3 separate regions of the Homo sapiens genome follow, and all the other regions are linked to region 1. The links come from fine-mapping of genetic effects on gene expression. A gene starts in region 1. Each other region holds a variant in brackets. All regions are shown on one strand. Distances are between the middles of the regions. Region 1 holds the start of VGLL3 (vestigial like family member 3). Region 2 overlaps LOC105377196 (a long non-coding RNA gene). Region 3 overlaps VGLL3 (vestigial like family member 3).

Region 1 (8,406 bases):
GAAGTTATAGGGAGCATGAAGCTGTGGGGCACTTTAAGTCTCGAAGTCTCTACAGTGAAGTTAATTTGTGTAGTGTGAAGTTATAGGGGCTGTTCTTTCTCAAAGAAGTCCTGTATAAATTTTTATAAATCTACTTAAGTCCTTACTTACAGTTGCAAGAAAAATAGATCCTCTGCCTCAAATAAGTTGTCTGTGAATTGAAACTACTTTGGTTATAACTGTATTCTTTTCTCTTAATGAATCTAAACTTATGTTGGAATAGCAATAATAGATGAGACACTTAACTGCTAATACCACTTCCTGTATTTTATTTTAGATAAATAAATATTCATTTGCTAACTGGATATACTGTTTCATCAACAAGGGTGCAACATGGATAGCATAAGTCATTAGCATAATCCAAATGCTTGCTAACGGCCTTTGGAATGCCTAAACTTAAAAAAGTACACTACCAAGGACTTGGAAAGAATCTCGCACTCCAACGCCAAAGAATCTATTGCATATTAATCTTCATTAGAAAAAAAATTGATTGGGGACCTAAAGACAAAAATAAGCCTATTGTGCAATAGCAAAACATTAAAAAAATTTAAAAAGCTTTAGGAAATTTCATGTCATTGTACAAAGATGCTACACCGGAGAAAGGGGGATCTGGTGATCCTAATTTTGTCACCAGCTTTGAAATCTTTAGCTAGGCATTTCAGCCCTATAAAAATCCATTTTCTCACTTGTAAAAAGAAGAGTTGAAGTTATGTTTTTCCAGGGCTTTTTTCTCTGACAAACCGAATTGCAGAACAATTTTATGACTCAACCAACGTAGCAGAGTCCAGAGAGAGTTTGAAAAAACACCTTACAAAACTTATAACTGAAGTTCTCCCTCCAAGGGCACTTAATTTTTTCAAGTGAAAGCATGCATGCAGATTCATCCAGCTGTTACCCTGGAAGAGGACAGAGTAAATATACTCCATTTTATATGAAGCCCAAAGTGTGATTGTTAAAAATCCCCATGCACAATTAGAAAACCAGTGACTGTTCTCTGTCTCATCTATAAACTGCATAATTCTGAAACCTTTGACAGCATGTGCTGAGAGACTGAGTCAAGGGTTCTCCTGAGGAGTTGTTAGAGACTGACATATTAAAGCCAGAAAGAGATGGTGGGCATGCGAAACAGGTCACCCAGCATCCCTCAGTAATTTTGGCTCTATAAACCCCACTGTAGGATTTATACCCAGCCATGCAATTTCTAGTAATTAATGTCAGGGACAATAAAATGTATACTTTGCACATATTTTAGCTTACTTTGACTTTTTAGCCCACTGTATACCTAAGTAACACACTGCAGTGCAAGCTAATATATATATACAGTTAACTAGGTTTTTAAAATGACATTCACTTATTACCCACCTACAACATGCAATATGTTCAACAAAAACCTAAACTTAAATTTCAGGTGCACATTTGTGCTTATCGGAAAACAGGTGAGAGTACACATGCCTGGATAATGAAGTTCTGTTATTTCCAAAATAATTCTCAATGTTATATGATCATTTGTTAAGAGGAAAAATATACCTGTGTTTAAAATCCATCATAAGGAATCATTTTGATACAGTAATTAATAAGGACTTCAGAGCCATACAGTTTGAGGGGGAAATTAGTTGACAGATACACTACTACAATTGAATACAGAAGTAATATAAAACTTTAATGCTGTCTTTTCTAGCATTTTTTAAATGGCTATTAAAATTTCTTGATTGCTGTTACTTTTCTTCGCTCCTTTTCCATTTTTTCCTTCTCCAAAAATCAATTTTTCAAATTCAGTAGGAGTTGTAGCCCTTACTTTTGTCTCCCAGGCAAGATGCTATTAGGGGTCACTTCCCATGTACGGAGAAAACAATCTTCATGGATAATAATGATAAAACCTTATGGAATGCAAAAACAACCAAAATATGTATTCTCGGATGACTGCATTAGGGCCAAGTCAATATTAGTCCCACTTCACCCACGCATTGCATAGTCTAAAAATGCTGTCAGCCTGATAAGAATTTCCTGATTTACTCTCTTTTCCAATAGAAAATGTAGGTCATCAAAATAAACTTCTGACACTAAAAGAACAGTAGTTACACTGTCAAGTCTTTTTTTTTTTATTTCGTTAGCCAGTTATGGTCAAACAGTTTCTTTACTTGACCAAAAAAAAAAAAAAAAAAAAAAAAAAAAAAAAAAAAAAAAAAAAAGAAGAAGAAGAAGGAGAAGAAAAAGAAGAAAAAGCAACATGAAAATTTCCAAGCACCTCCCTATGGCTCACTCAGCCTAACATCTAGTTAAGCAATGTCTACAAAAGCCCAAAATATAGAAGTTGATCATTATGTAACCAATCAATGTAGATAAATTGTTTTCTTTTTAAGAAGCTCAATGGTCAGAGTTTTCCTGATTTTTATTTTATTTTATTTTTTACTTTTTAAAATTGTTGTCTTCAGTATGTTGACGGTTTTAGCAAAAGAAATGAATTTGGGGACCGAGTCTCAGGGCTATTGCAAACATTATATAAAGTACTGGAGTCATTTCTTATTGAAAACTTTTATGATTGGCAATTTGCCATTTTCTCTGATACCGAATGTTATTTTCTAGCTCAAAAAAAAGTGTTACAGTATTAACTCCACACCACAGATTCATTAATTTCACAACCCTAAAAAATAAAGCCATATTTGAAACAACTTCTACTAGTTTGTTATTTTATAAAGGAGGAAAGTATCTTTCTGAACATGTAGAGAAGTTTTAGTTTGTTGCTCATCCACATTCCAAATGATAATTGAAGACCTCTGTAATATCAGAGATGCTTTGAAATGCTGGTGCTGCTGAATATTTTTTTTAAGAGGATAGCAAGAAAGTAGGGCTCCTTCCTCTTTTGCCCTAATTGGTTCTGGTTAAGCTGGTACTATTTAGCAGATGAATCTGGGGCATGTACCCTTCCAGAATTAGCTGAATTTCATAGTTCCTAAATTCTAAACGGAAAGTTAGATTTCTTTCTAAAGAGTAGCACTGTAATTCTAGCAAAGAGACAGAAGTAGAGGAAATACAGAAAGTAAAATGTCAGATTAATTAACAGCCCAAACCTAAGAAGGTTTGCAATAAAACATGTGGTACCTAAGAAAGTAAAAAGAAATAAATCAATATATTCTATGGATGGTAATTTCCTAACCAAATCTAGTTATTTTTTTTAAGTTTCTCCAAATCCGCCCACCCTAATTCCCATAGTCTGAGGTGGACTCTATTTTGGTACAGCCCTTGCCACATACATTTTTTATTTTAATGTAGCACTAACTAAGCCTTGGCACACTCTCCGTTGTATCCAGAGAGTAATGTCCAAGGGCGCCTCGTGCCAAATTCCCCAGAACTCTACTGTTCCTTCTAAAGTAACTATATCATCTCCTCAGTTCACGACCCCTTATTATGGACATCTTCAGTTACTCTTGGAAGAGTGGAGACTCAGCATCCAGAGATTCAAGGTAACCTTTTGGCCGAGGGACCCACTGTCAACAGACTGAACACGTACAAACTCTGTGCTTTGCTGGAATTAAAAAATGAATGAAGAACCTTGGAATCCATCCCTGTCCTCTAAGTCACAGTCACCGGGAGAAAGATTCTGTGGAGAAGTTCTAGTAACACCCGATAGACATTATGCTAGACCAGTGTTCCCCCATGAAAGTCCCAGATCATTTCGTGAACTCACTCTCCAGGTAGCTTCCCCTACCTCTGTCAGCGCACTTCATCTTCCTCATCAATAAAACCCTGAAACATTCCATCTTTCCAAATAAACAAAATAGTTGGTTGAAAGGAAGTTTACTCACATGGTCCTAAGATAGATGCCCTTGGTGAGCTTCAGAGAACTGAGTCCTAAGAGCTAGGGTGCCTAGGAGGAGCAGCCTCTGAGCTCCGGTGACCACAGCTCAATGAAGCCCCCAGCTAGGTCATGCCTCACCCACCCGTCCACCCTGCTGCTCTCCCTTCCCGGCTCTCTCGGGATGGCTTTCTGCTCAAGGACGCTCCCGCAGATCCCAGAGCATCCTCTGCGCCACGCGTGCCGGCGGGACGTCGCCGAGCCCCAGACCGATACTCTCGATGCCCTTCGCCCCCGCCCCCAGCAGGCTGCCCGTCCGGTGACTCACCTGCTGGCCAGGTTGGGGCGCCGGCTGATAGTAGGCTGTGGGGCAGGTTGTCGCTGCCATGGGGTTGGGCAGATACTGGGACGCTCCATAAGGCTGGGGGTGATACATCACCTCCGCACAACTCATGGCAGCCGGGGCAGTGGCGGCCCCCGAGCTGCCGCCGCCGCTCTACGCGCTGGCGCGAGGGGCGCGGGCGCCGCCGCCGCCGCAGCTGCCGCCTCTGTCGCTGCTCCAGCTGCTACTGCGGCGAAGGCGGGTCCTCGGCGGCCTCGGGCTCCGCGCGGGGCGCGGGGTCGGGAGGGACTGGCAATCAGCGGGGGCCCATGCGCGGGCACCTTCATCTTCAGCCCCTCCGGATGTTCCCTGCCGCGCTTATATAGCGGCTCAGGGACGCAGCCGCCCGCTGCGCCGCTGGGGCATTACCGCGTCCGGCTCCCGCGAGGGCTGCGGCGCCCACGGCAGCGCCAGTCACAGCCACAGCCCAGGCCCGGGTCGGGCAGCCGTGGGGAGCCCAGCTCCGGTTTGCATATACACAATGCACGCCCGGGGCTCGTCCTATCACGGGTGCTCCCGGCTGTGCGAGGACAGGGAGGCGGGGGCAGAGGGAGGGGGAACGCCGGGGAGAAGGGGGAGCACTTTGCCTCCCCAGGCTCTGACGCGGAACTTTGCAAAGTTTCTCCAACTCGCTTTGCAGCGGGCGGGTCACCCTGCAGGGGGACCCCGGGGAAGGCTGGCTGCGGATTGGAGCGAAGTTTGCAGCCCTCTCCGCCTCCCAGCATGGGATGGTGGTGGGAGGGGAATGGTATGCAGAGGCTCCGCGCCCTCAAGGCTCGGCAGGTTCCCACCCTGTCTCTGTCACCTGGCCGCCAGGGCGAGGGCTTCCCTACTCCAAGGAGATTTTACAGGGAACACCAACTCAGAGGCTGGGACCAAACAAAAGCCGAGTGTACAAAGGGGTAAAACAGAGCAGGCGCAGAATACACGGGGATTAGCTCCTACATTAAAATAATCATAAGTGAAAGTTAACATCTCTGCAAGTGCCCACATGCCAAGAATGCAACACAGTTTTCCACAAGCAATCTCTGCTTTAAGTTTACATCTTCATGGTATGACACTGCTGTGAGACGTCCACCATTTCTGGCTTTTACAGCCTGGTTTTCACAGAGCAATAAAGGGTAGTTGATTAAGCCCATTCGCTAATAAAGGTTTATCTCTTTGCAATTGGATCTGACCCTCTCCAAAATGGGGAAAAAAACGTCTGTGAGAATATACTTGTATTCTGACATAATCAGTAGAAATAATTATACTCACATTATTTTATTTATTTTGAGATAGGGTTTCCTTCTGCCGCCCAAGCTAGAGTACAGTGACATGAGCACAGCTCACTGCAGCTACCACCCCCACGCTCAAGAGATCCTCCCATCTCAGCCTCTGGAGTAGCTGGGACTACAGGCGTGCATTACCACGCCCAGGTAATTTTTTTAATTTTTTTTTTTATAGAGAAGGGGTCTTGCTATGTTACCTAGGCTGGTCTCCAACTCCTGGCCTCAAGTGATCCTTCTGCCTCGGTCTCCCAAAGTGCTGGGATAACAGGCATGAGGCACCGCACTGGGCCTCATTTTATAAATGAGCAAACTCTAGCTCTGAGATTCAGCAAACATATCTCTCCTTATACGTAGGCATCCTCTTTTATGACTCACAGCAATCTCTCATTTTTACAGTCTATCTTTTCTCAGAGAAAAAGTCAGTTTGAAAGTCAAATGCACTAATGTTTTTATAGTTTGAATTATGTCTTCCCAAAAATGTATATATTGAAGCCCTAACCCACAATATGGCTGTATTTGAAGACAGGACATATAAGGAGGTGATAAGGTTAAATGAGATTTAAAAGGTTGGGCCCTAATCTAATAGGACTAGGTTCCTTATAAGAAGAGAAAACACGCCAGAGATATCTATGTCTCCCCCAAACCCCACTCCCTGTCTCTCTGCTCTGTCAAAGAGGAAAGACCATCTGAAGTCATAGTGAGTTACCTACAAGCCAAGAAGAAAGGTCTCACCTTGAAACCAACACTGACCACACCTTATCTTGTGCTTCTATCCTCCAGAACTATGAAAAAATTAACTTTTTTTTTTTTTTTTTTTTTTTGAGACGGAGTATCGCTCTGTTGCCCAGGCTGGAGTGCAATGTCACGATCTCGGCTCACTGCAACCTCCTCCCGGTTCAAGTGATTCTTCCGCCCCAGCCTCCCGAGTAGCTGGGATTACAGGCACCCGCCATCATGCCCGGCTAATTTTTGTACTTTTGTAGAGACAGGGTTTCACCATGTTGGCCAGGATGATCTTGAACTCCTGACTTCAGGTGATCCGCCCACCTCGGCCTCCCAAAGTACTGGGATTACAGGCGTGAGCCACGGTATGCCCAGCTTAATTTGTTTTTTTAGGCCACCTAGTTTGTGGTATTTATGACAGCCCTAGCACACTAATGCAGATATACAGTTATCATATATCGTTAATGTTTACATAAGTGTCTGTGTGTATGTCTAGGTACACAGATACATACACATGTATAAACACACAGGCATACACACACACACTGACACTATAAAAATTGGATAGGAACTTTTTGCTACGCCGCAACAGCTTTTATTCAATCATTTTATCACTGAATATTAAAAACATATTTATTAAGGGTTTGCACAGTTCTTGGACTTTAAATTGTGCTCTTTGTAGTACAAGAGTATTTCCAGCAATAATATGTTTCATAATTTACTTTAAACGTTTATTATTGTCTTTTCCCAAATTGACCTCCTTTGATCAGATCCCTTCCTGTGTTCCAGATTTATCTATTCAGTTCTTTCTAGGTAGCTCCACATAGGTGTTACATAAGGACCTCAATCCTAATAGTACTGATTGTCTCATGTCCCCAGTTTGATCCTCTTTTTTAATCTTCATCTCTACTGAAACTCCCCCACTACCAGTTGTCCCAGCTAGAAATGTGGGAATCTTCTGGCACTCCTTCCTTCTCCTCACAGTCCCCACACCTGGTCTTGGAGTCAAGTTGACCCCAAATTTTCCATTTCTACTGACTCTCTCCTTATCTCTGTTGCTATAATCGTTAGTTTGCTCGGCATCTCTCACTCAGACTCCTGCAAGAGACTCTTAGTGATTTCCGGGTCCCAAGGCGAGACTTCTTCCTGTTCTTCATAGTTTATACTACTCTTTAATGACCCAGCCACTGCAAATCCAACTGTGCAATGATGATTCATTCTTCTTTTAAAAATTTCACAGTCACATCCCGCAGTCTGTAGAAACAACTCTTTAACCTTCAGATTCTGATCCCTGCCCATGTCACTACCTCCTGCAAATGTTTACCAGCTATCTGAATTGAGATCTGCATTCTGCGAAGAAGCCGTGGTACTTTCTACCAGCATGTCATTTTACATATGAGCAGAGCATTTGCACCAACACATCCCTCACCCTCTTCACTTGTTAACTCCTTCTTGCTCTTCATGTAATTGTCTTCCAAAACATCCGATGAGGATCAGCTTTAATGCTCCTATTTTCACCAGCTCTTGTTCTTTTAAGAATACGCTCCCATCATACTAATAATTAACTACTTGATTTGAAGTTGCTTATTTGCTTGTTTCCCCAATATGACCATGGCTGCTTGAGAGGAGAGACTGTGACTTTTATCTCTAAATTTCACTAAATTTCAATCATATGATATCTGGCTTAGTAAATATTCTTTGAATAAGTAAAGTATATAATAGGAGGAGAAACAAAAACTATTAGAATAACTTACAAATTCTTGGTGGGATCTGAGCACATATAAAATCAGTGAAGCTATAATGTAGAATATGATTTCAAACTCTGTCTTAGGCTTTCTGCTGTATGTTAGATTGAGAAAATCCTTATGATGTTAAAAAAAAATAGGACCTAGAATATAAAGTGACTGAATTAGGACACAGAGCAAATTTGTGAGGACAGCCACTTCTCAATGCCAAACCTCCTGTTCAAATGTTTAATGCCTCCAACTTTTTTCAAATAACTTTTATCTGTAGTTGATTTTTTTGTACAATTATGAGTTTAATATCTGTCTTTTTAGCTAGACTTTGGCAGAGGTTATTTATATCTTGTTCATCTCCATATCTAACACTTCGAAGACATTCTATATATATTTTCCAAATGATAAAATAAAGCCAGAACTTGATTCAACATGTCCATACCCCTCATTGCTGCATCTTCC
Region 2 (8,406 bases), 81 kb before region 1:
TATCATCTCACTCTCTAAAATTCCAAATTTTAATGCTTCTTTCTTTAAGTGAAGAGCTAAGATTCCTACTATCATATTCACATACCCATGAAGGACATTGTGAAATGTAATCATTGGCTCTCCATGCTTATCCTCATTTTCAAACACGATTGTGACGAATTGCCTCCCCTGACATAGTCAATTTCATGATCTAGGTGACTTTTGCAGGCCTTGTTGGCTTCCTGTTTGAAATGAATAAAAGGCAATAACACTGCTCAGGTTACAAATGAAATGTTTTTTTATTGACATATTTTATAACTAATATGTAGGTACATTACATAGATTTCAAAATGTACAAAACAAAGTCAAAGAAGAAAATCAGTATCACCTTGTCCTACATGCATACAAGAAAGAAAAATAAATACCCTGCCATTTCCATATATCACAAATATTTTTTCTGGTAACTAAATACTTTTGTAAATAACTATTCTAATGAGTAATATATATTAACACATTCATCCTATAATTCATTTCAATAACCCAATTGTTGATGCCAATTTTTCAGTATTATAAATGTCATAACAATAAAGATATTTATAGACAAATAGATGGCAATTATGTAAAACCTTAAATAGCTTCCTAAGAAGAGAATTTCTGATCTAAAGTTAATAAAGCATTTATTTTTGGTAAGTGCTGTATTTTGTTTTTCAGGAAGTTTATACCAGGCAACAGTAAGTAACATCACTGTTTAAAATATTTCCAGTAATCTTGTTGTATACCTTAAAAAAATTCAATTTTTGTCAGTTGTAACTCAATAAAGCTGATGGAAAAAATAAAAATAGAAGACTTCTGATAAAATTTAATTTTAGTTCAATAGAAATATAATTAATGCATAGTCATTACAGAAAATTTAGAAAATACAGATGAAAATTAAAAATTTGAATAAATTTTGCCATTCACAATTAGTGGCTGTATGTTTTTTCAGCAGAGCTTATGTATATATTAAATACACATTTTTAAAAAGGTAATACAAAGTTTCAAACTCCTCTCTTGACATTGTATTGTGAGTGAGCATTTTATAATTTTTTTTTTTTTTTTTTTTTTTGAGATGGAGTCTCACTCTGTCACCACGCTGGAGTGCAGTGGCGTCATCTCGGCTCACTGCAGCCTCCGCCTCCCAGGTTCAAGCAATTTTCCTGCCTCAGCCTCCCAAGTAGCTGAGACTACAGGCGCCCACCACCACGCCTGGCTAATTTTTGTATTTTTAGTAGAGATGGGGTTTCACCATGTTGGCCAGGATGGTTTTGATCTCTTGACCTTGTGATCCGTCCGCCTTGGCTTCCCAAAGTGCTGGGATTACAGGCGTGAGCCACCGCGCCTGGCCGCATTTTCTAATTTCTGAGTCTCTTTTTCTTCTTCCTTATTTCAGAGATTGGCTACTATCGACAATGTTGCTGTCATCAGAAACTCATGGGTATCACTCCAGACATTACCTTCTTTCTTTTGTCCAGCACCAGCAGCTTACCAAGTCCTAAAAGATTCACTTGTAGAATAATACTTGTAAGTTTCAGCTCCCCTCCAATCGTATTTCCTCTCTTGTTCACTTGTATTACCACAAATACCTTTCAGCAGGTCTTTTGACCGTCAATTTAGCCATTTTATATTCCACATCCCAAGATCCTGTCAGAATTTTCTTCCCAATATTGAAATAACACCCTGTCACTCCTAGGATTATAATGACTCATTTAAGATAAAATCCTAGTTTTTCTGTATAACACTGTTCCCCTTTACTTTTTCAGCTTCATTCATCTCTTGACATTATCTCAGATGTAGCTTGCCCTGAGGCAATGCCAAACACTTGCTGTTCCTTGACTGTTTGCTGCTTTTCCATGAGTGGGTAAGTTCCATATTGGAAGCTTCATGTAGGGGCTCAGAGCTGGGGCTCTGGGTGAATACTGCATATAGTTAATTCTTAGCTGTGTCAGCTGTTGGCTGTTGTCCTTGGGCAATTCACTTAACTTTTTTTTTTTTTTTTTTTTTTTCTGAGATGATAGACTCTTGTTCTGTGGCCCTGGTTGGGCAGGTTCCAGAGATTCTCCCATCTCAGCCTCCCGAGTAGCTGGGACTACAGGTGTGCACCACCATGCCCAACTAATTTTTGTATTTTTAGTAGAGGCGGGGTTTCACTATGTTAGCCAGGCTGGTCTTAAACCCCTGGCCTCAAGTGATCCACCCACTTCGGCCTCCCAAAGTGTTAGGATTACAGGCATGAGACACCACACCCGGCCTCACTTAAATGTTATATGTAACTTACGTTTTCTCACTTGTAAAATTAGGATAATAACAGTATTTGCCTCTACAATCATTAGAAGGATTCATTGTTATTGTTATTAACTAATAACTATGTCTATTAAATAAAGGCTTTCTGTTTTGCCTGCACGTTATATTGATTAACTTGCACAGCTTACCTAACATTGAGATCTCTTCAAAACTTTTTTTTTTTCTGAAACTCAGCTGAGATGCATTCCTCTCTCCTTTTACCTTTGTCCCATCATTTTCATCCAGTGTTGAAATTGTCTGTGTTTGTAACTCCTAAAGCAGACTAAGTTGTCTGAGAGTAGAAGTTGTCTTTCTCCTCTTTGTCGCCAGCATCGAGCAGAAAGCTTAAGCTATGTCCCAAATTGTTGTGCACTGGTATCTGTTTTATGAATGAACAATATTTGATAAATGGTAATTTTGATTAAGATCTTATTCACCACTTTTCTTTTTCTGTGCAATGTTTTCAAGACCTTAGTTAAATTTAAAATATATATATATAAATATATATATATAATATATAAAGGCCTAAGCTTCACATATTAAATTAAAAACATGTAATCTAATTTTAAAGGGAGACAGGGTCAAAATTTACTTTTATCTAGTATTTTATTGTAATATTTTCATGGAGAAAACAAATAGCACATGTCATATAACAAATACAGTGCCAAGCAGGCACATTGACTGATTTTGTATGTTGTAACAATTGCAAGTAAACGCCATGAGAAGACGTGAAGAAAAAAGACATAGAACTTACTTTGCAGGATGCTTAGGGGTCTCTTTAGCTTCAGAAGACACATCCCCAAGATTCTTTAGGCACACCTGGAGATCTGTAACAATGTATAATTCAGAGAATAAGCAAATTAAAACAATGTTGCATCCACTGTTATAAAGAAGACATAAATGGAAGCGTTATGACAGGAACTTTCAGCTCAGCAATGAAATATTTTAGGATGATATTAGTCTTAATTCAAATTATAAAGACAGAGACAAACAAGGCTCTGAAAAGAGAAGGTGAAAAAAGTTAAGGGAGATGAAGAGAACACTCAAAGTCATAAAAGTAGAAATGAGATTGATATCACCAAAAAGAGGCTTTGTGGAGGACGTAAAGCAATTGGCAAATTCTTTTTCTCAGTCTGATGGCGCAACAGGAAATGAAAAAAGGTATATACTACAGAGCATGGAAGGCTTTCACTACTGAAGTATTTAAGAATGAGTGAGGTAAAAGTACTTCATAAATGAAGAAGTTACAAAATGCACTTATGCTTATAATACCACCAATGTTCCTATTAAGTTTCTAACAACAATAATAGTAAATGATAACATAATAGCATTACGACTGATGATGATGAAAAATGATGAATATTATCATTATATTAGTAATCAAGGGGAAGCAAGATGAACAGACAAATGTAGATTTTTCTAGATTATGTTATTTAAATATTTCAGGTTTACTGAACACCTGGTTGTCTAATGTGAATTATTCCAAAGAACACGCTGTTCCTTTCCTAACAAAAAAAGCTTCAAAGGCAAATAAATAATTTCCAATTCCTTTTTGGTCTCCAAGTCACTCTTTACACAAGAGGAATTTGATGAGTTAAGTGTAAATGTGTAAGAAACATGTGGATTGCATTTTGTTTAAAAACATACAAGGGTTTAAAAATTAAGGACGAAAAGTGTTTGGCATAATGCATTTTTGGTGAAGCCAAACC[A/G]GAAACATTTGAGACAGTTTCAGATTGTAGTGTGACCTTCAGCATTGCTTGTGTTTCTGGGTATTAAATGAATCTAAAAATAAACACTATCCTTAACTAGAACTGAAGCAATAAAACCTGTAGCAAGGTATGGACCTGAATGAAAAATTTTTTGAGGATTTACTGAATTTTTTTCTTTTTTCTAAAAAAAAATCTTCCAGTCTGAGAGTTCAAGCAAATGCCCACCATATGTGTCATGCTTTGTGTCTATTGCCTTATTTCTTCCTAAGGTTTCTGGTTCACATAGAAGAGGAGACATCTGAATATGTATAAGAAAAATGTCAACCCTCCCCTAGTGGTAAGATTAATTTAACTACAACTTGTACTCTTCAGTGGGTTCAAATGTGTTCTGAGCTTGAGTCATTTTTGAATGCTTTTGGTCCATACTTTGTTCTAATTTCTCCCTATGTATTTGTTGAAAAGACACTTTTGGAGAATGACATTTTGTTTCTGTCCATAGGCAAGAATTATAAAACATAAATAGCTGGGTTATGTTGAGATTTATTGGTGGGTAAGTTAAGGTGATATGCACTATAACAGGCAACTGCCACTTTAACAGCCTGTAACAAGTGGAAAAAACAAGAAAATGGAAATGCAAAATTATTGTTTTTATTTTTGTTGTGTGCTGCTGGCTTACCTGGTGCCTCTATTGAAGAATGGCATTTCAGTGGTTTTTGCTGTTCTACAAATTCTCTCAGTCATCGCACATTACCTCCATCTCCTTCATGCCGTTTTCCAAGCACAAAGCACTGTGTATTAGTCCGTTTTCACACTGCTATAAAGAACTGCCTGAGAATCTAAAACGGGAGGGGAGAGGACCCACTATCCAGGTGGGCTCTCAATCTAAATACATCACCCCTTAAAGCAAAGAATCTTTTTGGCTTTCAGGAAAAAAAAAAGTGTGGCAGAGGGTGAAGCAAGAGATATGTGACCCAAGGAAAAGTCAGAGAGATTCCAAGCATGAGCAGATTTGACACGCCCTTGCTGGCTTTGAGAAGCAGGAATCCACAGGCAAGGACCTCAGCGGCCACTGGGAGTTAACGACAGCCCCCTAACACAAGTGCAAAAAACTGGATTCTTAGAAGAGTCCAAGTGAGTTTGAAAGTTGACACTTCGGCCGGGCGCGGTGGCTCATGCCTGTAATCCCAGCACTTTGGGAGGCCGAGACGGGCGGATCACGAGGGGATCGAGGCCAACCTGGCTAACACGGGGAAACCCCATCTCTACTAAAAATACAAAAAAAAAAAAAAAAAAAAAAATTAGCTGGGCGTGGTGGTGGGCGCCTGTAGTCCCAGCTACTACGGAGGCTGAGGCAGGACAATGGCGTGAACCCGGGAGGCGGAGCTTTCAGTGAGCCGAGATCGTGCCACTGTCCTCCAGTCTGGGCGATAGAGCGAGACTCCGTCTCAAAAAAAAAAAAAAGAAAAAAGAAAAGAAAAGAAAAGTGGACACTTCCCGGTACCTCCTGATAAGAAACCAGTTTGCCAATATATTTAGTTCAGCCTTGTGAAAAAGCTGAAATCCAGAGCAGAGAAACTAGCTGAACCAACAGAACAATGGGAAAAATGTGTGCTGCTGTTTTAAGCAAATTTGTGCTAATTTCTTACAGCAGCAATAGGAAAATAATACACTCTCAAATATGTTGTTCCTGAGTTATGCCCATTGCCTCCTCAGCTCCACCTGGCATGCTACTTACCTATGGCAATAGTGTACCTTCTGTATCACCTTCCAGTCCCTCCCTAATCCACACAAACATCTTGAAAAAAATTGCATTGTGTTCCTTACAGCCAAATACTCTTAATTAATTAATGTTTGAAAAAGAGAATACCTGGGAGAATCTCTTTGGTTTGACTGGAAAGAGCAATGTATCTTTTGGATAACTTGCCGTTATATATAAGATGTTCTTGTTTGATTTATGGCTATGGACATTTAAGAACAACATTTTAAACTAGTGCATAGCAAACCTAAATATGCATATGTCACACCTAAGGTTCCTGTGAAATTGCAAATTCCGGTTCACTAGGTCTGGATTTGGGCTAAAAAGTCTTCATTTCTAGTAAGCTTTAATTGCATTGTCATTTACTTTTTGTGTGACCTTGAGTAAATTACTTCGGTGTCCAAACCTAATTTTTTTCACCTGTAAAATTGATATTGTGCATATAAATGAGAACATGGATATAAGGGAAACACTGCTTTTTATGCTTTTCTATTACTGCAACTCAGATAACACCAACAAAGCAGCCCAGAAATGCAGGGACGAGCCACGGACAAATCACTCAATTAGCAGATCTCAAGAACTGGTAGAAAGGTCTTAGGCTCTCGTTCTTTATTTAAAACTGCATTCAACACATTCAACACAGTTTTTTGTTTGTTTGTTCATTTGTTTGTTATTGGAGGCAGAGTCTTGCTCTGTCACCCAGGCTGGAGTGCAGTGGCCCAGTCTTGGCTCACTGGAACCTCCACCTCCCAGGTTCAAGTGATTTTTGTGCCTCAGTCTCCCAAGTAGTGGGGATTGTAGGCATGTGCCCCATGCCTGGCTAATTGTATCTTAATAGAGAGAAGGCTTCACCATGTTTCCCAGACTGGTCTCGAACTCCTGAGCTCAGGCAATTCACCCCCATCAGCCTTCCAAAATGCTAGGATCGCAGGCATGAGCTACCATGCCCTGCATCAACATAGTTCTTTAGAGGGACTGAGGCCCATAGCAGATGGAATTCCAGTTGTTCTCAGTGGTAACAAGCTTTCCTCTTTTCTTAGTTTACTTTCCCCACCCCTCTGCTTCTGTTTCTTGGATGCTTTCAAATAAACTACCTTTTCATAAGTCCTTTTCTCAAACTAGTTTGGCATCACAATTACTGATACTGTTACCTATTTTGAAATGTGATAAAAGGTAGAAAAGAGGGAAACATTGGCTTATGCAGTAGCTCTGATACTTGAACTTTGTGGGGGCAATGATAATTTAAAATATTGTAAAATTAGTTGACATTTAATTTGCATTGAAAACCTTGGAGAAACAGAATGACACTGGCCAGAAGACCTTCATGGAAGTTTTTAAAAGACTTTTATTTTCTATAGCTCTGGGTAGACTTTGCTGAAATTCAAGCCCAAGATTTAATAGTAAAGGTAACAAAACTGCAAAGGAGACAATGTTCAGCCTTAGTGCGTCTTTTAAGCTAAAATCATGGCCAAGATACAAAAGAAGTAAGAGACTGATATATCTGGGATAGGAATACCTGGGTTTCTGCATCCAAGGAGGCATGCATTATTGAAGAAAACACTAACGTTTTTGAGAAGTGCAGTATGGCTATCCTCTGCTGTACAGAATTGACAGAAGGAGACAGTTCCATGAGACAAAGGCCCCTAGTGTCAATGAAGCTGACAGAGTTCCGGAATAGCAGAAAACAAAGTGGTGGCGCTTAGCCATCAGAAGCAATACTAGAAGGCACAGACATATCTGTATGGCAAAAAAAGGGTTCCTTAACCTACAGAGAACTCTGGCAATGGTTAAAAGACTGTAGTGTATATCTGGAAGTGAAATAAATGTGCAGCCATCAAAGATGTTGCTTGACATGTATAAAACCAAGAAAAAACTCAAAAGGTAGTAGGCCAAGAGTTCTATCAGATTCTGCAGTAAAAATTTACTACTCCTGGCCCAGTTTTCAGATCTGAGATAGCCTCAGATAGGATCTATTGACCAAAATGAGGATAGATACTCCTGAGGAAAGACCCTTTTATGCCACCAAAAGCATATATCATAAATGTTATATCAGTCTGTCCTCAAAAGTACCTATGGTCTTGTACCAGAGTAACCGCACATTAAGGAAAACGCATAATCAAGCTCTTTCAAAGAGATGTTGAAAACTGAGTCTTATTTCATACTGAAATTAAAGTAACTCTAATTCCTTGTGTATTATGACCAGACGGTAAGTAGATTTCCGGCTTTAAATCTAGCTTATAATGAGTTTAATTTTTCCATGGAATCACCCTGTAGTTATTTCTCAAGACTCTGAATTTTAATCAAATTTAGGATCTGATAGAACCCTTACATTAGATTTCTGATTTGTAGAATAAGAGACATTAGGGTGAAATACCAAGAACAAACCTGAGATTTCCCACCCACTCCCAGTCATGATAGTAAATCAAAAGTCATGCTATATCCAAGTTGAAAGTGTGTAATCACAAGATCATAGACAATCTGATAGAATGTAAGAATGGCCTCATAAAGGTTCAGCCTAGTTGTCACTGTGGGGATGGCACCTTATTTGGTTAGGATACTGCCTTTTGTGACGTGATGTTCATATTTAAGAAATAACTATTATATGATGCCTTGTTCCTAGTACTAGAATACACAGGTGAGAGA
Region 3 (8,406 bases), 53 kb before region 1:
TCTCATCTCTAATGTGAAAATAAGGAAACTCGCCTTGAAAAGTTGTTCTGAGGATTCCAAGAGGTGACTTTTGTAAAGTTCCTGGTTATAGATGCCTAGTAAATTTGAGCCAGTACTAATTGATGCATAAAATTCTAAGCTTCCTGGGAAGTCTAGTACTTGACAGGCACTTACACATTATCCCATCTAATCTGCATATCTATCCTATAATGTAGGTATTACCATCTCCTTTTTACTAATGAGGAAGGGTACATTTCCCATGTCAAACAACTGGCAAGTGGGGAGTAGGAGGATGATAGAATCTTATAGCCTCTCAGCTTTCTGACACAGAAGCTGCAGATTAAGACAAGTGTTTTGAAATGATTTATTCTATTCATGTTTGTTAAAGTCTTGCCCAAACACATACTCTAAGTGTGAGAAATGAGGGTACTTCATTAAAAAAATTTTTCAGGACTAAAATGTAATTTTGATTTTTTTTCTAGCAGACAAAACAAGTGCTGAACACCTAAAGAGATTGGGGAGTTGACAGTTTCAGATGAAAAATAAGATGTCAACATCAAGAAGCTATAATTCTTCCAATCCGGTATAAGATTTGAGGATAAGCTGAGTAAAGAAATAATTATATTCCTTGAGATCAGAAGTATATGTCAGATGAATTTATTCTGTATCCCCAAGTGGCAAATAATGTTCTACAATTCCAAAGTCTCTCATAGCTCTCATTCATGAAAGCCACATTACTCTCCCTCACTCTTCCAAAGTATCCTATCCTTCCTGGCCATTTTTAGCTTCTCCTACTGTCTCTTTTTATCCCAGTTGGCTATGAGATTATAAAATCTTCTCACAGCAAATACATTCAGATGTGACAATAGCAAAAATTTGGGGGTGGTATGGAGTTCTGAGTTTCCTGTTTGGCTAAATCTGGGTTTGGATCCTGGCTCTGTCACTCACAGCTGGGTGCCTATATTAGTCAGAGTTATCTACAGGAGAAGAACTAATAGGAGATTTTATATATCTATATATCTATATCTATATCTATATCTATATATCTATATATATATATATATCCCAACACACAGACTCAAATGTTAATCTCCTTTGGCAACACCTCACAGACACACCCAGGATCAATACTTTGCATTTTTCAATCCATTCAAGTTGACACTCAGTATTAACATCACAAGTCCACCCCTTGTCGAATTGAACCCATACACATCTCCTGAAATCATACATAACTTCAAATAAAGACAATAATAAGGTCATAATTACACCTAACATACTACAACTCTCCTTCATACAACCAGAAATGCAACAATCCCTAATCCAAATGCTATTACATTAAGTTAACACACATAAATGCTGACATGAAGTCATTAAATCTTACGTCACATGATAAAGGAAAAAGGGAATAAAATGAAGATATTTTCTTAGTGCAAGTGTATACTTGCACAAACATATTTCTAACAAAAGGAGAAGGAAATACTCATGACAATTACAGTCCCCATTTCTGCAGCTGGTCACATGGTCGTAGCTGATATTGATGACTACCTTGTTCTGCTACCCATTCTGTATTCCCTTTGCCTTCAGCAAGCATCTTGGCAGGTCGTGGTTTTTTCCCCTGGTGGAGTTACCCAACCGTCAGTTCTTGACTTCTGTGCACTCACAGGCTCAACATCATGTGGAAGCTGCCAAGGTTTAAGCCACAGCCCAGCCTCTATGTTGGGCCCTTTCAGCCACCACTAGAGCAGCTGGGATGCACCAAGACCTTAGGCTGCACACAGCACAGGGACCCTGGGCCCAGCCCACAAAACCATGTTTTCCCCCTAAGCCTCCTGAGATGGGAGGGACTGCCATGAAGACCTCTGATATGCCCTGGAGACATTTTCCCCATTGGCTTGGGGATTAACTTTCAGCTCCTTAGTATTTATGCAAATTTCTGCAGCCGGCTTGAATTTCGCCTCAGAAAATTGATTTTCCTTTTCTATCACATTGTCAGGCTGCAAATTTTCTGAACTTTTATGCTCTGCTTCCCTAATAAAACGGAATGCCTTTAACAGCACACAAGTAACCTCTTGAATGCTTTGCTGCTTAGAAATTTATTCCACCAGATACTCTAAATCATCTCTCTCAAGGTCAAAGTTCCACAGATCTCTAGGGCAGGGCAAAATTCCTCGTCTTTTTGCTGAGACATAACAAGAGTCACCTTTGCTCCAGTACCCAACAAGTTCCTCCTCTCCATCTGAGACCATCTCGTCTTGGATTTCATTGTCCATATCACTATCAGCCTTTTGATCAAAGCTAGTCAACAAATCTCTAGGAAGTTCCAAACTTTCCCATATTTTCCTGTCTTCTTCTGACCCCTCCAAACTGTTCCAACCTCTGCCTGTTACCCATTTCCAAAGTTGCTTCCACATTATTGGGTATCTTTTCAGCAGTGCCCCCACTCTACTGGTACCAATTTACTGTATTAGCCCATTTTCGTGCTGCTGATTTCATACCCGAGACTGGGCAATTTACAAAAGAAAGAGGTTTAATGAACTTACAGTTCCACATGATTGGGGAGGCCTCACAATCATGGTGGAAGGCAAGGAAGAGCAAGTTACATATTACATGGATGGCAGCATACAAAGAGATAGCTTGTGCAAGGAAACTCCCCTTTGTAAAACTATCAGATCTTGTGAGACTCATTCACTATCACAAGAACAGCACTGGGTCCCTTCCACAATTCTTGGTAATTATAGGAGCTACAAGATGAAATTTGAGTGGGTGCTCAGGGCCAAATTATATCAGTGCCCTTCAGAATGAACTTAACTGATGATTTCCTCAATTACTGAAAAGTTAGATTAATTAAAGAGCAACAACAATATTTACTTAGTGATAAGTAAATTAAATACTTAATTCTAGTAACAACTCTGTGAAGTAGTTTCCTTTAATATCTTCATTTGATGGCTGGGCTCAGTGGCTCACGCTTGTAGTCCCAGCACTTTGGGAGGCTAAGGCAGGCAGATCACAAGGTCAGGAGTTCGAGACGAGTCTGGCCAGTGAAACCCAGTCTCTACTAGAAATACAAAAATTAGCTGGGCATGGTGGCAGGCACCTGTAATCCCAGCTACTTGGGAGGCTGAGGCAGGAGAATCCCTTGAATTCAGGAGGCAGAAGTTGCGGTGAGCCGAGATCCAGCCACTGCACTCTAGCCTGGGTGACAGAGCTAGACTCCCGCTCAAAAAAAAAAAAAAAAAAAAAATCTTCATTTTACATACAGATGACCACACTGTGACTTAAAGAGGTGAAGAAAATTATCCAAAATATACAGCTTCTAAGTAGCATTGCTGAAACTCAACCCCCATTTTTATATTGCTAACAGCTTCTCAAATAATGCTATCTGCATATTGCTATTTGTGAGAATCACTTGAGGTGAATTCATGTAATACTCATGATAGATCAATGACTTTCATTAAATATTGGTTCCTATTTCTTTGTATTTATATAGCACTTTATTTTTCCCAAATCAGTTTAGATTTATTTCACTTGATCTTCCTTGGACAGATAAACAGAAATATAAGATTAAATAATATCAACAAATCACCAGTGGAAATGGTCCTAGGATGTGGGCCTTCTCTCTTCATATTTGGTACCTTCTTTCCTTCAAACCTTCAATTCTTCAAGATACCATAAGAAGAAACTTTGAATTTTAACTTTTCTTGTGTCCTCCCTCCATTTTCGGGCTCTGAGGAAAGGCATATGAAAATAGGGCATATGCTTATTTTCATAAAAGGATGAGTGCCTTGATGTTACAGAACCTGATAGCACACACTTAAAATGATTATTTTGCCATCTTTGGAATCATCATGGCTGGAGGGCCACTCACAACAGGACTTTTCCTCTTCTTGCAATGATAAGCCTTAATGGAATCTGGCCTGCAGAGTGTCTGGGCTGTGTGTGAGCCTGATGTCAGATCAAGTCCAAGCAAGTTCCCCGAAGCTCAGGCTTTACAACATCGTGTAACTCAGAAACATTCCATCAAGCCACCACCCACCTTTTCCAGTGGGAATCTACTAAAATGATTTTCTTGGAAGCAGTGTGGAAGTAGGGGGAAGGGTGTTAAATTTGTGCTTTTGGAGTGGATTGTAGATGGGTGAGTGGGTGGAGAAAAGAGCGGGGGGGGGGGCGGGAATTAAAAGCAAAGATGGAAAAAATAACCACA[C/T]TGCCACCAAAATATTCTGCTCAAGGATGAGGGAGTTCACCCTACAGCTGTTAGCGCTGTTCAGCATATTTTGCATATTTATATATACCAAGTATTTCCAAACAGCCTTGTGTTTGTTTTAAAATCCCACACGGAGATGTCTGGTAAAGCTGTCACTGCAGAAACTTCATGGTGAAGTTTGTAAGACTACTTTCAAAATTCTTTATATGCATCATAAACTGAGCAGAAGAGCTATTGTCATTAACCACATTATAGAGAAATCTAAACTAATCTGCCTACCCATCAGACAACACTCAGAACAAAGCACCCATGTTCTAAGACAAAGAAAGAACCTCGTTGATTGAAGCCAATTTTTTTTATTGTTGGTGTAATTTGTTTAACACAAAATGGCACATAGCATGATATCATGTCACCCATTGATCCTTGATTAGTCCTGAAGTTATCAAAGTATGATTTTTCTTTATTTCTGTTGACTCTAATCTTTGACTTAACGATATTTTCCCAGACTTACTGAGTTATAATTGACACATAAAAGTTATATATATTTAAGGTATACGATATGATGATTTGATATAGGTAAACATTGTGTAATCATTATCACAATCAAATTAATTAATACAACCATAACTAGAAGTATTTTTTGTAAGAAAAATGATAACACTGGACAGATTTTTCATGTAGCCATTTTCTTTTGGAAACATAAAATACCACAAAACCATACATAGCTCATTTGAAAAAGATTCTTAAGCTTTCAACAGAAGGAATAGGGGAGTTTAAAGCTATATTTTCCTTTTAGCAAGATCCACAAGAAAGGATAGAGTGTCATGCTTAAAGGGGAACAGATTTTGTATTTTTTGGCAAGATATTAAATCCTCTGTTGCTATATTTGGCTCTCTGCAAATAGTCTCTTGTACAAGTGCAAAGCAAAGATCAATGCTGATGTTCTTCATTCAGTCACAGCCAAACTTGGTATGGAAAGTAAAACAGTTGTGCTTGAGTGTTGTTTCGAACAAAGTCTTGCAGCTCATTTATTGATCAGCAGCATTCCAGAGTATGGATACCTTCTTTACACATTAAATCTATCAAAACATGTTTGCTTTTCCATAACAGTTTTCCACTGCTTAACTGATAGCAGATGGAGTGATTCAATCTGGACAAAAGTGTTAAAGCTTTACCACGTCAATGTGGTCATATTTAGCTATTTAGTCAAATGTGTATAAGCAGGTCAAATAAGATGCTTGGAGACTTAGGACATCGCAAGATGGGTCTAAGTTCCCAAAAAAGGAAGCAAAACAATTAAATCCTACTTGGTTGTCCCCAGAGAAAACACACTTCAGCTAGGAAGAATCTGCACTAGATGACCTGTTCTCCACCCCCTAGACTGCTCATCTTACATAAGTAACACATAACCCTTTGGATTCTGAAGCACTATAATAACTACATGAAACATTTGAAATAGTGACAGGAATTTTCTTTACATGCAATTATTTAATGAATGAAGATAAACCCCCACACAAATGCCAACGCAAACATTATGACTTGCTACTCCCAGTGAAATAGTCCTTCTCGATTACAAGAGTGATAGAAAATGATGGAAGTCCAATACTAATTGTTGTAGGTAGAATAATGGCTCCAAGTCCTAATCCCCAGAACCATTGAATATGTTACTGTACATGGAAAAAGGGCCTTTAAAGATGTAATTAAGAACCTTGAGCATGGCGCAATGGCTTATGCCTGTAATCCCAACACTTTGGGAGGCCAAGGCAGGCAGATCACGAGGTCAGGAGACGGAGACCATCCTGGCCAACATGGTGAAATCCCGTCTCTACTAAAATACAAAATATTAGCCTTGTGTGGTAGCACGCATCTGTAGTCCCAGCTACTCGAGAGGCTGAGGCAGGGGAATCCTTTGAACCCGGGAGGTGGAGGTTGGAGTGAGCCGAGATCGCGCCACTGCACTCCAGCCTGACGACAGAGCAAGACTCCATCAAAACAAAACAAAACAAAACAAAACAAAAAAACAAAACAGAACAAAAACCTTGAGATGAAGAGATTATTCTGGATTACACAGATGCAGCTATTGTAATCACATGAGTCCTTAAATATGTAAGGGAGAGGAAGAAGAGGAAGTCAGTGATGTCATGTGAGAAGGTCTTGACCAGGTTGCTGGATTTGAAGATGGAAGGAAACTAAGCAAAGGACTCTAGAAGCAGGGAACAGCAAGATTCTCTCTTGGAAGCATCCAGGAAATGCCTCCTACATTCTGTAGCCCACCAAGACTAAGATCTTTGCTGAATGTCTGACTGACAGAGCTGTAAGATAATAAATTTGTGTTGTTTTAGGCCGTTATCGTTGTAGTAATGTAGTAATATTTTACAGCAGTTCTAAAAATCTCATTTTGACACCACATTCTAAATATGGTAGACAGTTAAAAAGCCTGCGCCAAATTATTTCATCTGTAATGCTGGAAAGTCTATTATTTAAATGCTGATTTTCAGACTTTAGTACTTTCACATTAAAGATACGTGTAATAAGAAAATTGAAGGCCCACTTAGAGAAACTCTAGCTTTCTTCAGAATACAAGGTCTTGGAATTCTCTTTTCAATGTTAATGAATCGTAGAAAAGTTTTTGTTTGTTTTTTCATACTACTTATGGCAGAGTCCCTGTCAACAAATGTAAAAACAATAAAATACACCTTGGTCAACCAATATCCTTAGAAGCATTGTATTATAAAATTCTCAAGACTCTTGCTGTTATGTAATTAATATACCCCATTTCATTTTCTTTTCCATTATAAACATGTATTTTATAATCTATTCCTTGCTGTAACATATAGACTTCTTGGCCCTAGAAATTAACTTCTTAATTAATAACACCTAAGATGTTGTAATTTCCAAAATATTTATAAGATGCTTAATTGAATAAGGAGGAAACAAAAAGAGCTTTAAATTCTCAAGAAATGCAGACCAAATCCAAATGCTATGTTAAAATACAAACATTCAATTCACATTAAATTATTTATTGAACAAATTGAAGATAATGACATATGTTTTTATTACAAAGTCTTCCATCATCTTATATCATTGACACATATTATGAGACCTGCATTTGAAGAGTGAATAGAAATAAGAAAATGTTTTCCCAACCCCACAAAAACAGAAAAAAATATATAATTTTATAATTATCTTATAAAGCCAAAAGTTTTATGAATTATACTTTTTTTATTAGTTAAAAATGACAGCATAACTAAGGTTAATTTTTATTTCTGGAAACACAAAATTAAGGTAGCACAACTTCTTGTAGAACTAACAAGTCTGAAAGTTCATGGTATTTCAATGCAGTAAAATAATATTTCTATTGTTAGTTTTCAGTTTACCTAATCAAGTGACAAATATAAAATTCACTACACTGTATTTTTGTTGACAAAAGCATTTCACCTTACCTAGATTTATATAATAAAAACAAATTGTATCCATCTTCCCTTTAAATATATGTACTTCAAAGTGATACAAAGAATTCACATGAAAACCTTTCCCTATGTTTTATCTCCTGAAAAAAAAAATGTATGGAATAGTATTTTTAAATCAGATATAATATCCAATATTATACATATCCTAAGAAATTAAATCAATTGTGTAAATAATCATTATTAACTTTTGCTCTAGCCACGGCATAGAAAGAAATGTACATCTCTATTAATATAAAGTGATATCAATAGGAAAGTTCACATCTTATGCATATACCAAAAAAACTAATTAAAGTATGTTGCATTTTAAAAGAATTATTCTTATGCCAAATTTAGTAGTCTAGAAATTGTTTTTTTTTTTAAAAAAACAAATTGATGATTACTTATCCTTTTCTAAAAGGTGTCTGTTTGCTTATACAATGGAATTGGTAAAAGTACACTTATTTATAATAGAATTTCTTGGAACTTAAAAAGGAGATTCAGAAAAACTTATTGGATCAAATTAAATTGACTAGAACTTCAAGAGAATACTACTTTGACCAATACTTTAAAACTATAAAAGTATTTTTAAACAAAAAAGCACAATAGACAATAAAAGAAATAGAAAAGTTGAGATACTTTAACAATAATGACGATTTCTGTAGGTTGTAAAAGTGTACATGGTGCAATTCCCAGAGAGCACTACAAGATTCAAAAGAAAAAAAAAACCTGCTAAAAAATTCTAAATGTCTGTGCTGT

What was found. PIP is the estimated chance that this variant, and not a neighbour inherited with it, causes the effect.
Region 2: its variant is fine-mapped to the expression of VGLL3 in lung (TOPMed, PIP above 0.99).
Region 3: its variant is fine-mapped to the expression of VGLL3 in lung (TOPMed, PIP above 0.99).

Annotation. Positions count from the first base shown.
Region 1 is chr3:86,986,458-86,994,863 of GRCh38, forward strand. It overlaps VGLL3 (vestigial like family member 3), which reads right to left and starts at 4,692. Exons shown (of 4, transcript NM_016206.4): 1 at 4,161-4,692. The coding sequence starts at 4,286.
Region 2 is chr3:86,905,934-86,914,339 of GRCh38, forward strand. It overlaps LOC105377196 (a long non-coding RNA gene), which reads right to left. Exons shown (of 6, transcript XR_001740802.2): 3 at 3,053-3,125; 4 at 2,448-2,677; 5 at 86-221. Among named protein-coding and RNA genes, the nearest start is that of VGLL3, 81 kb to the right of the region's middle. The variant A/G (reference allele first, on the strand shown) is at 4,008.
Region 3 is chr3:86,933,432-86,941,837 of GRCh38, forward strand. VGLL3 (vestigial like family member 3) reads right to left here. Exons shown (of 4, transcript NM_016206.4): 4 at 4,542-8,406. Among named protein-coding and RNA genes, the nearest start is that of VGLL3, 54 kb to the right of the region's middle. The variant C/T (reference allele first, on the strand shown) is at 4,202.